Regions from separate parts of the Homo sapiens genome. Here region 1 is linked to region 2. The links come from fine-mapping of genetic effects on gene expression. Tissue or cell type: whole blood. Region 2 holds a variant in brackets; the other region holds the start of a gene. All regions are shown on one strand. Distances are from middle to middle.

Evidence for each region. PIP is the estimated chance that this variant, and not a neighbour inherited with it, causes the effect.
Region 1: it holds the start of KRT73, and the variant in region 2 is fine-mapped to the expression of KRT73 in whole blood (INTERVAL, PIP 0.98).

Annotation. Positions count from the first base shown.
Region 1 is chr12:52,616,188-52,621,793 of GRCh38, forward strand. It overlaps KRT73 (keratin 73), which reads right to left and starts at 2,372. Exons shown (of 9, transcript NM_175068.3): 1 at 1,891-2,372; 2 at 1-193. The coding sequence starts at 2,337.
Region 2 is chr12:52,579,322-52,585,615 of GRCh38, forward strand. It overlaps KRT72 (keratin 72), which reads right to left. Exons shown (of 9, transcript NM_080747.3): 9 at 6,268-6,294. Among named protein-coding and RNA genes, the nearest start is that of KRT74, 8.6 kb to the left of the region's middle. RefSeq lists an enhancer at 5,717-5,886 and a cis regulatory region at 5,802. The variant G/A (reference allele first, on the strand shown) is at 3,300.

The sequences.
Region 1 (5,606 bases), 37 kb after region 2:
CTTCGCGCACGCTCCTCAGCTCCGAGTCCAGCCTCACCCTGTCCCCAGACAGCGTCTCCAGCTGCTTCCGCAGGTTGCTGATGTAGCCCTCAAGGATGGGCTCCAGGTTATTCTTGCAGTTGTTCAGGTCCAGCTGCTGTAGCAGCTCCCACTTGGTCTCCAGCACCTGGTTCTGCTGCTCCAGGAACCGCACCTGGAACCCATGCCACACATACTTAAGCAATGTGGAGAGGGGATGTGAGAATTCCCTTCCTGGACAGGAACTGTGTTTTCTTATGCTACATTAGCTTTAAAAATGAGCCTCAGCCCTTAAAAACTGCCACCCATGCCACTCACACCCCCACTCCTTACCTAGGGTCCTTTATCTGACTGAAGTTCTCACTCTGAGGCAGCCCTTAAGGTTGGGAGGGGCACCAATGTCTTCATTTCCCTCTCAAACTATCAAGATCTAGATCTCCTGTCTCCTCTGCACTTATCCAAACCTGCCTGGACCGATGTCCATGTTCAGTCCAGGCCACCTCTCCAAGGCAGCCCCTTAGACACAAGCTGGCCTGTGCTAGCCTTCACACTGTCAGGCCTTCTGCTCGGGGTCTGGTGGCCCGTGCTCTGCCTAGTCTCTCCCTCCTTGTGCGTGGGCTCTCCCAGCCCAGCCAGAGGCAGATGTTCAGCTTATCTGGGGTCTCCGGCCCTCCTAAGTTGCTTTCATGTCTGAATCTCTACTATCTCAATCACAGCATTGTCCCAGCAGCAGAACAAGCATTCTCAAGTTGCAACCTACAAATATATCATTCCCTTGCTTAAAACCCTCAGGTGGTTCCACATCACCCTCAGGGTCAAGTCCATATTCCTTATCACACTCTTCATAATGTGCCCAGCCCTCCTGGCTTCCTTCTTTACTCATACAGTGATGTCGTAAACCGAAGGTCTCCCATTCCCCAGACAAGTTCTACCATGCTGCACGTGCTGTCTCCCTAGATTGCCTTTTCCCCACCTCCATCTGAAAACTCCTACTCATGCCTCACCACCCTACCTCACTGTCGCTCCGGGTGAGCTTCCCCTGCTCCTCTAAGCTTAGGAAGTCTCTGCTTCCCAATACCTTCCTACCACTTTGTTCCTCAGTGATTCTCAAACCTGAGTGTACATCAGCATCACCTGGAGAGCTTGTTAAAATGCAGGGTGCTGGGCCCTGCTGCAGAGTCTCTGATTCAGTTGCTCTGGGGTGGAGCCTGAGAGTGTGCATTCTAACAAGCGTCCAGGTGACGTTGCTGCTGCTGGTTCCAGGGCCACCTTTGAGAACCACTGCTCTAGGGCACCGTGACCTCCAGCTGCCTTGCCTCATAGGCTGTGTGTGTTACGGACTGAGTCTGAGCTTTCAGGGGACACAGGAGGAACAGCTGGGTCGCATGGCAGTCTAGATGCCCCAGGCTGTCAAGGGCATCTCCTTCGCCTAGCTTCTAAGTCTCACAGGCTGTCACTCTGCTACTTCTCAACTCAGAGACCGCTCTCATTGCTTCCTGGACACCTTCCTGGGCTAGGCTGCTGGCTCCTCTCACCCCTCCAACCCTGGTCCCTTGCCTCTGATGTCCAGGCTTTGTCCAGTTCCTCCCTGGGCTATGTCTGCATCCTGGGGAGGTGTCCTGCCTTCGTCTGCTTCAGACAGGGAGCACCCCAAGGACAATGAAGGCGGGGGAAGGAAGGGGCTCTACGGCATGAGCAAGCCTTATGGGCCCAGCACCTGGGGAGCTTTCAAGTTGTTTACCTGGTGTCTGATTTTGCTGGGAGAAAATGATTTCTTGCTCTCAGGCAAATTGAACCACAAATTAGGGCAGTGGCTCCCTCCTGAGTCCTTAAAAGGGGAGCCCAAGATCAGCTTTCTCCAGAAAGACCCACCTTGTCAATGAAGGAGGCGAACTTGTTGTTCAGCACCTTGATCTGCTCCCGCTCCTGGGCACGCACTTTCTGGATTTCAGGGTCCAGCTCCACGTTCAGGGGTGCCAGGAGGCTCTTGTTGATGGTGACCTGATGGATACCCCCGGGCGGGCACAACGACGGACACACGGACCCCAAGGCCACACTGCCAAACATGCTGCCAGCAAAGCCACTGGCCCGGCCCCGGCCAAATCCATAGCCTCCTGCCCACCCACTGCCACTGGCCACATTGAAAGAGATGCTCCGGGCACCCCCCAGGCTGTAAAGGCTCCGACTGCTGAAGCCTCCACTGAGCCCTTTGCCCCCTGCTCGGTAGGAGGATGAGCTGCCCCCTGAGAGCACAGCGGAGCAGCCGCTGAAGCCCCCCTTGGCAGCAGCTCCCGACTTGTAGGTGAATTGGCGGCTCATGGTGGGGAGGCCAGAAAGTGGGGATAAGATGCTGACCCTTAGCTGAGATGCAGTTCACCAGCCTGTGATCCTGGGCTCCCACTTTATAGGACTCAAGAGGGAGCCATGGGCCTAATTTGTGGGTTCAGTTTGCCTGGAAGCAAGAAATCATTTTCTCCCAGCAAAATCAGACACCAGGTAAATGACTTGAAAACTCCCAAAGTGCTAGTCTTGCAAGTCTTGCTCATGTAATTTGAGTTTTATCTAATGAACATGTGTAATTAGCATGGGCACATTATCCATAGAAAGATCTTAGGTGGGAGGTTTGTCGCAGTCTCAATTGCTGTTCCCCAGGGAGTGGTGGGGCCTGGGATTGTAGGGGTACAGAGGGGAGACCTTTAATTGACAGTGTCATCTGTTAGAAATCTCACAACCATGCCAGCATCAGATGGGCTGCTTCAGGGACCCTGGCTGAGCTGCTTTTATGTGGTTAAGAAGAGGCTGCTGCTGCCTGGCTTCCCAGAGTTCCTGGAGACAGGTTTGATGGCTGGCCAGGGCCATAGGAGAGGAGCACACTGGGAATCCAGGACCAGCCTCTGGCTGCCAGCCCCCTGCTGTGCCCTCCCAGGCAGCTCTCCTGCTCCTCTGTGCCAGCCGGGCTGCCCTGCTCACCTTCCTTTGCACACACTGACTTCTTTTTCCCTTTACCATCCCACTACCCTGACTCTTGACCTTGAAATTATGGTCATTGCACCATTCACGATGGCTGACACTGGTGCAGCACTTTACAGTGTAACAGAGCTCCTCACACAAGAAGCTCATTTAATCCACTTAGTCTGCATGGAGGGGAATGGTGATGATCCACATTACACAAATGGGGAAACCAAGGTTCAGATAATTGAGGATGTCATTCCTTTAGCAAACATTTAGTGAGTCCTTTCTTTGTGTGAATCCCAGAGAATGAAAATGCCCCCAAAAAGCACAGGCCCCAGCCTTGAGGACTCCCTTGGCTGGTCTTCTGACTCCACATTCAGAGCTATGCCCGCCTTATTCATTCGTCCATCTATCCGTCCAACCAGCCAGCCAGCCATCTACTTGTTCATTCATTTATCCATTCGTTTAACAGACTTCTCTTGAGGGCTGACTCTCTCCCAGGTACTGTGCTAGGCTCTTGGGTCCCGAATTATGAAGACCAAACCTAGCTCACAATTTTGGAGATGGGGAGGTAGGGGAAGACATTTGAATTTCATGGATCCTTGACATTGCCAAAGTATGTGACCCAAGAGTTTCCCAAATCCCAAATCCCAAATATATCCATAGTATAGAATTTCCTCCATAAAAACACAAGTATTTCACTAGCTGGAGTACTTGAATGAACAGTTGGCCCATCCTTCTTTTCTATTTCTGTATAGAGGTTATGATATGCCTCTAAAATTGTTGTACTAAGCAATTGCCAAATTCAACCTCCCCTCTGTTTTATACAATATGGTTGTTTTCTAGTTAAGAATAATCATTTTCTTTGATGTCTTCAATTTCACTAAAGGCAATGCCACTTGGAAGTCCTTTAATCTTTTTTAGCTAACATGAAGTTCTATTCCTTTTTTTCTTTTTTTTTTTTTTTTTTTTTGAGATGGCGTTTCACTCTTCTTGCCCAGGCTGGAGTGCAATAGCATGATCTCGGCTCATCGCAACCTCCACTTCCTGGGTTCAAGGGATTCTCCTGCCTCAGCCTCCTGAGTAGCTGGGATGCAACACCACGCCCGGCTAATTTTGTATTTCTAGTAGAAATGGGGTTTCTCCATATTGGTCAGGCTGGTCTCGGTCTCCCAACCTCAGGTGATCTGCCCGCCTCAGTCTCTCGAAGTGCTGGGATTACAGGCGTGAGCCACCGCACCTGACCCAAAGTTTCTATTCCTTTGTAAGTTTCTTTGTAAGGCACAAAGAAGACCAACAAAACTGCATTGTGATGAGAATGCTTAGTATTCCAGCCAGAATCACTCCCTAATTGGCTCATTTCAGCACACCAGCACTGGGGTGGAGGTGATTCAGGCCTGCATCTCAGCAAAACTACAAATTGCTGCATGTCACAGGCCCTGAGATAACCCCCAATGGCATTTATGCTGTGAATGCCAACTCTGCAGTATGGCGTGGATGTGCTTACGAGCAAACAGCCCCTCTCCTTATGGTTTTCACTTCCCCTCCCCTCCCTGGCCTTCTCATCTTGTGAACCTGCCACAGAGGCACTTCCGGAAACCTTCTCTGATCACTTTCCTAATCCAATCACACCTCTCTTCCCAGCCTCCCACATGTTGTTTGTTGTCCAAACAACAGCATCTATTATGTCAATTGTCTCTTCTAATTTGATGTCTCTACCTGTGTTCAGGAGGTATGTCAATCTTTCCTAACGGCCAGAAATTTTCCTGAGGACAAGATCCAGGTCCTATCCTCCCTTTGGTCCTCTCTACTCACTTCCCAGAACTCCAGTGGCAAAGGACTCTCAGGCAGTCATGGACTAGGCTAAAAAACTCTTAGGTGCCCTTTGAAATCATTCTCCCTAAGAACAGTATCCCTAGCACCTGTCATTGAAATGCCTCTAAGTGGGTTTTCACACAGTGAGCTCCTTATATTTCACATCCCTTATATTGCCCTCACCAGGGGAAACTCAATGCCAGATGAACCCAATTACCAAGTCAGCCCCACTTCCCACAGTGGGGCTGTCCTGCCATTAGCCTCTGCCCAGACACTAGGGCAAGAGTTTCTGATGGTTTCAGAAAAGAGAGAAAGAAAGGGGGGGGGGGGGAGAGAGAAAGAGAGAGAGAGACAGGCAGGAAATCAACTTTCTGTCACCCCCAGGGGCAATCAAATAAATATTGTGAAATCAGTATTCCCTATGTGGATATTCCACAACTAGAAAGATGAAGTAGACATACTTTTCCCTTCTTCACAAACATAAGAAGACTCTGAAGCGTAGAGAAGAAGGCACACCAACAGGGACCTCAGGACCCAGTGAAAGACATGATGATTATTTCTCTAGGTTTTCTATTTGTCTCCTATATTCCAGACTTGGGGCAGAAGAAGGCAGGAATCTGGAAAGGCTCAGATTTTTAAAGATTAAACAAAAGCTTGATCTCTGTAGCCACATCATCAGGAAAGGGGCAGCCTAGCAAGATGGAAAACTTACAGAGAATAATCACTCTATTCCATCTCAACACACAGAAAATACTATGGTTTCACCTACACCCACATCAGCAAAAGCTGAGTGTGAGGCCTAGACCTTCACACTCACCAGG
Region 2 (6,294 bases):
TGACCTGAAACCTGGCAGTTTCCTTATCACTGCTAGTCTTATGGAACTTTCTACCTGCACCTCTCGGGGTAAACGTGGGGGAGCTGCATCTCTGCAGACACCCTTCTCTGAGTCTAGGACCTTCCCCACGTCTTCCCAGCATGGGTGTCTCCCTCCTCTCTGCTGCAGCCCAGCTCAGGAGGGGCATGCTCCACCCTTCCCACCTGGAGAGAGAAACATCAGAGCAGTTTAACCAAGTGGTTGCAGGGCCATATGGTGCCTTTATGCCAATCATGAGAAAAAGGCACCCCTTCCTCTGGGCAGACGCAGCCCTTTCCCAGGGTGCATGGCTGGATTTCAGCCTCTACTTCCCCCGCACTGAGACTTAGTGCTCAGCACAACCTGCACGCCCCTCCAGGGCTGCCCTGGTAGCTTGCCTAAGTCTTGGGGATGGGCTCACGTTCCACAGATGAGTTGGAGCCTCTGGTCAGAGCTGTCCTCCTGCACAAAGGGTCATGGGAGCCTCCTGGCTTCCCCGAGTACTTGCCTCCTTCTCCAGGGCTGCCTGAGATCTGTCTGCCAGTTCCCAGGGTCTTTCCTCTCTGATCCCTGGGGAAAAGTGGTGGTCTCCCAGCTCCCTCATCACTGGAACCCCCAAGGGCTTGTCCACCAGGAACTCTGCCCCGCCTAGCTTTTCTCTGGCTTGGGGATCCGCGGACTACTGTTCATTGTTCCAGCCTGAGTATCCTTTTGTCTTCAGCACCTCCTGGATTGTCTCTCCAAGCTCCTCCATTCTTGGTTCTCTCCCTGCTCGGGCTCCTAAGGTTTTTATGATGGAACAGGCCCCTAGCCACTTACTGTAGATCAAACACTCTTTAGTTCTCTTTCTCTCCTCTTTTTTTTTTTTTTTTTAAAGAAAAGCTCTTTGAACTCTTTACGACTCTACCCACCACCTACCTAGTCATCACAGGGAACTTTTCTCAGCTCCAGTGCACATAGGTATGTGAAGACAAGCACTGTCTTGCCCTGGGAAGGACACATTTCTTCCATTTGTTCATTTTAAAATTCCACTAGGCCCCCATCTGGGCACTATTTAATCCATCTCCTTACCTCAGACCCCCTCCACCTCCCCTCCAGCCACTTCAGGAAGAAATTTATATTGTCTGACACCCCAACCCCCTTTATTACAGGATTCATTTTTGAAAGACAACAGGGAGGCTGGGGGAAATGCCTTAATCTTTTGATCTTCACTGTGAAGTTTGATGCTTGATCCACCTCTTCCTCTGCCCATTTGCAAAGCAAACAAGCAGGCTGTGCATTGGGCTGTAATTAAGCCACATCATCACTAATGACATGCTCTCTATCTCCCATCATCAGAGCATCATACAATCCATCCAAACAGGAAGGAGAAGCCCAGCCCTGCACCGTCCCTGGGGAGTGCTGGAGTGGTGGGTCAGGCCTGGGGTGGCAACTGCCTCCAGTGTGGAAGGAATGACCAGCTTCCCTCCCTGGGCCCACATCATATCTGAGCCTGCTGGGCCCTGGGGAAAGGTGTTAAGAAGGGACAGGAGAAGGGAAGAGATACCAGGCAGGGCAGAAGCACTAGGGGCCTGGACCACCATAGGCAATGTGGAAATTGGGAGGAAGAAACATAAAAGTAGCACATCAAGAAGAAATAGAAGAAGTGGAGACTTTAGAGAAAGGAGCTAGGGAAGGCTGGGTCAATGAGGAGGGGAAGTTGCTGCTGAGGGAAGGGCTAAAAACAGAGAGAATGGAGGATGAACCCCGAGGCTGGGGCAGGGGGCTGAAATGAGCCTTTCAGAGCTCCATGGGAGACACATCCATGCAGCCCCACCCTGCGGGTGGAAGGGATGGTTGGCCTGCTGGATACAGGGAACCTCTCACTGCTGTGGGGTGAGGGACCCTCAGCACCACCCCACCGATGCAGACCTGCCATGGAATTAGAGGCTTGGGTCCGTGGGGCCTAGGGCAGGCTTGACGCTGGCACCTGAGCCTCGGGGTCAGAGAGTGAGCTCCTCCATCTGGAGCCAAGACCACAGCCAGCCCCTTTGGAAAGTTCTATCCCCCTCTCCTACAGAAAAGGAGGCAGGAGATGTTGACACCAGGAGACCAAGTCTCCATCTTCCCATTGTCATGGGCCCCCGCTGAGGCAAGTGGTGTCTTATGCAGGGCTATCAGGTTGGACACACAGCTGTGGGTTCAGGAGGCAGGTTATGAAATAAGCCAGGAGTCTGCAGATCCAAGAGTTGGGGAGAATGACTCACATCATGGGGAAACCCGTCTGGAAGTGAGAACCGGTGAAAGCAGGTCCTGGGTCCTGGTGGCTCCTATTTCAGGGAAGAGGAACAGGGGCAGCGTGGAGCAAGGGTGGGGGCTGCATGTTTTAACAGGGGGCCAAGGAGAAGGCTCAGAGGAACCAGCAGCCCTTCCAGGAAGAGAGAACCTTCTGGAAATGGATGTGGGCTGGGAGGCTGGAGGAGAATGTAATGGGACTGGAACGGAGCCAGAAGCTAGCCTGGCAGGTGTGCCTCAGGTTCGACGAGGCTTGCTTTGCACTAGTCACTGTGCTAAGCTTTTTGCACATTTTAACTCATTTCATCCTCACACCAACCTGTCAGGTAAATACTCTTGTTTTTCCCACATTACAAGTGAGGAAAGAGAAATTGAGCAGAGAAACTGAGTTGCCCACATTGCAGTTATAACTGGGAAAAGAAACAAATCAACAAAAGGATTCAGATCCACACCTGGCCGACTGCAAAATGTGTGTACCTCCACACTGGACTTCTAAGGTCCCTTTCAGTCCTATATCCACCACGCTATGGTTCAGTTCCTGAGCTCGGAGCAGCTTTAATCTAGAACTTGAGCTGCATCTGGAGTTCCAGGAAGAAGAATCTGGAATCTCTCCTGGAGATGGACGAATTGGAAGCAAGAAGGAGGGATTTCGAGGATAAGCCCTCTAAGAGGGGCCTGCATCCAAACGGGGATGCAGCGTGGACGACTTACCGGGGAGGAGGGATGGACAAGCCAATGGCAGCTGGTTTGCAGGAGAGGAGGGACCCTCAACATCTCTGGTGCTCCTGGAAGCTTTGCTAAATGTGAATGTAAGAACTGAGGGGCAGTGCAGAACAATTGTCCTTTGTGTAGTTGCCACTCTATAGGTGGCAGAAGTGGCAGAGCCCCTGAGATGGAGATTGGAAACAGCTGGCAAAGGGCGGCTCAAACCCCAGAGCAGCTGCCAAATGGGACCTAAGCAGTCTTTAACAAGCTCCCTGTCTCCAACAATTCACATCCCTGTTACC[G/A]CCTCCTCCAGGAAGCCTTTCCAGATTGTGTTCCTCTCTCAGGCCTTTCTTCCTATGGAGCCCCCTGGCTGTGCCTTGCCAGTGCCTCCATGCCTGGCTCATCTACTGCCTGAGAAAGAAAGAGTTCTCAGAGGAGGGAGGGGTTTGCACACTGTGCAGGCAGGGCTTAGGAGAGGGGGTCTCAGCTGAGTCATGGGGGCCCTCACTCCAAGGACCTCTGGATCAGCACCAAGATTTTCAGGAAAAGCTGTCTGAAGGCCTCAGGTTCTCTAATAAGAGGTGTGGAGGTTCAGGCAGCAGGCAGCATCAGCCCCTGCCCCCTCCTCCTTCCTGTAAGAGGAGAGGCCAGAGAGGAGAGGAAGAGGAGACAGGAGTCAGACCCAGGCAACACAGAGGCTGGGGCCAGCCTGGGCATGCCAGGGAGTGAAACAGCATCCCCTCCCACTGGCAGCTCCGCGAGGGGCGCAGAGCCTGTCTAGGGTCATCCCACGCCCTCTCTGCTGTAGGGAAGTCTTTCCTCCAGAGTCACAGGGGTAGAAAGTGCAGTATCCAGGACCAATGGCAGAGGGCAGTGTGTGCACAAAATAGAGGCACCGAGGGTTTTTCCCCTGCTTGGAAATGAACAGCCAGTGAACAGATAGGAATGTATTTTAGTGAATGGACCCAGTGCCCTCCACCTTTCACTTAGCCCATCTCGGCCAGGTCTCTGGGCAAAGTCCTGCTGTTGGTCCACACCTCTCAGACATGAACCAGCCCACAGCCAGCAAACACAGACGTATGCTTTAAAAATACTAGTAATAACAGTGAGCATCTACAGGTGTCAGACTGTGTTCCAGGCACTGTTTTACTCCCCTTATCTCTTTTCCTATTCTCTGATCTCCTCTAAGGTGAGTTCTTTGAAAGGTAAGGAGGTGTCGAAGCCAGGAGCATAGACTCCAGAATCAGACTGGAATTCAGATCCTCCCATTTACTAACCAGGTGACATTTGGTTAGTTACTTAACTCCTCTGAGCTTCAATATCCTCACAAGTTAAATGGACATTATAATAATCGCATCTTATAAAAATAATACATGTCAGATTGTTGGGAGAATTAATTGAGTTACCAGCCATAAAGTGCTTACCAGAATGAGTGCTGAGAACAGTTTCTGGCAACAGAAAGCACTTCATAATGGCCAGCTTGTATTTATCTTCTTTTACAAGGGCAGGATCTTGCACTAGGCCACTACTGGCAATTAGAAGAGCTAGGATTCAAAGCTAGGTATATGACTCTTCTGCCACTATGCTAGGCCCAAGGGGACCATTTATCTGACAGTCCTGGCTTTGCCAGTTGTCCAAGGATCCACCTTAGTATTTATTTAGATCAAAAGTGTCCCAGTTTGAGTGACTGCCTGCACACAAATGCATATAAGACACAAATTTATTAACACAAATATGTCATATCACTTGCATACCAGACAATTGAGACATGGGTATGTTGTGTGTATATCCAGCTCTTTTTCCCAGGGAAGGTGGGCTAAACTAAGGCATGCATTCCCATGGTAAAAGTGCTGACTGCAAGCCGGACCCTGGAACAAGGGGATGTAGGGCATGGAGTGAGGGACAGACATGTGAGCAGCTGATATGACACCAGAAAAATAGAGTGCCGGCTTTAACACAGGCTCAGGACAGGGCTGTGAGTGTACAAGCCACTGGTCCAGCCCCGGCTGCTCACCAGTGGTGTGAACATGGACAGGTCACTCAGCCATCTGGGACTCGGTTTGCCTGCCTGTAGAATGGGGGTGTGGGGTAGGGAGGTGTTGGGCCACAGCTGTATTGATCCTTCTCATGTAATGCTTGAAGATGGATGGGTCCACCTGGAGGGACCAGGCACCACAGAAATGTGGGTGGTGGAGTCTCAGCCAGGCCACACAGGTGCGCAGGCTGTCCATCACGGGTAATGGACATCTGAGGTTGAGAAAATGATATGTGCAAAGGCCCTCAGGTGTGAAAAGTCTGGCCTGCATGGGGAAAGGCTGGAGAATAAGGTGGGAAACGACACGGGGGAGACAGGATCTCGGGCACTCTGAATGCCATCCTCAAACGAGGTTTGCACTTGAAAGATGGTCTCGCATTAAGGGTTTTTTTCAAATCAACTGTGCTAACTGACTCTGAGAAACAAACATTCTTGCAGAAACACACACATACACACACAAACATACACACACATACACATACACACACACGCAGAGCTAAAAGAGCATCCTTGAATCTCTCAGCTTCTTACTCCACTGAATTTTTCTTCATAGTAGTTAACACTGCTTGACTTCATATTATATATTGCTTTGGTAGGTGCATATTTTCACTCTCCCTCTATGGGGCCAGTGTCTGTGCCTATTTTGTTTATTCTGGTATTCCCAGTGCCTGAGCAATGCCTAGCTCACTAAATATTTGTTAATTGAGCACTATTTCATATACACCTTAGATAGAGAGGCTACAAGCATATATACACACAGGCCTTACATGTTAGGGTGAAAAGGAAGTTGGTTAAAAGAAGAGGAAGACAGGGCCATTGTGTGGGAGCAGGACTGGGGAGTGAGTGGTGGGTGGTGGAGAGTGAGACAGTGGGAGAATGAAGGGAAGACCACTCGCTACACAGACAGTGAGTGTGCTCAACCATGGGTGCTTTGAGAACCAGAGCAGGAAGCCATGAGGAAGCTCTAACATCTGTATCTATCATGGGGTAATGATGTCTTGCAGGGCTATTGTGCAGAATAGGTGGCACAGGGCACGTGAAGCAATGGGCCTGCCCGGCCCTGGCCTCAGTAATACATTTCAACTGTTTACAAGGATCAGCCCTCACCCAGTGCCTACCTGGCTAAAACCAGTGAAGAGCCACATGAGCCCAGAGTGAAGCAAGAATCAGATGAAGAAAAGTTAAGGCACTGCAGATGGTGACATCCTGGGCAACAGATTCAACTGAGAACCAAACAGATTTAATCATTTATTGCAGAAGAA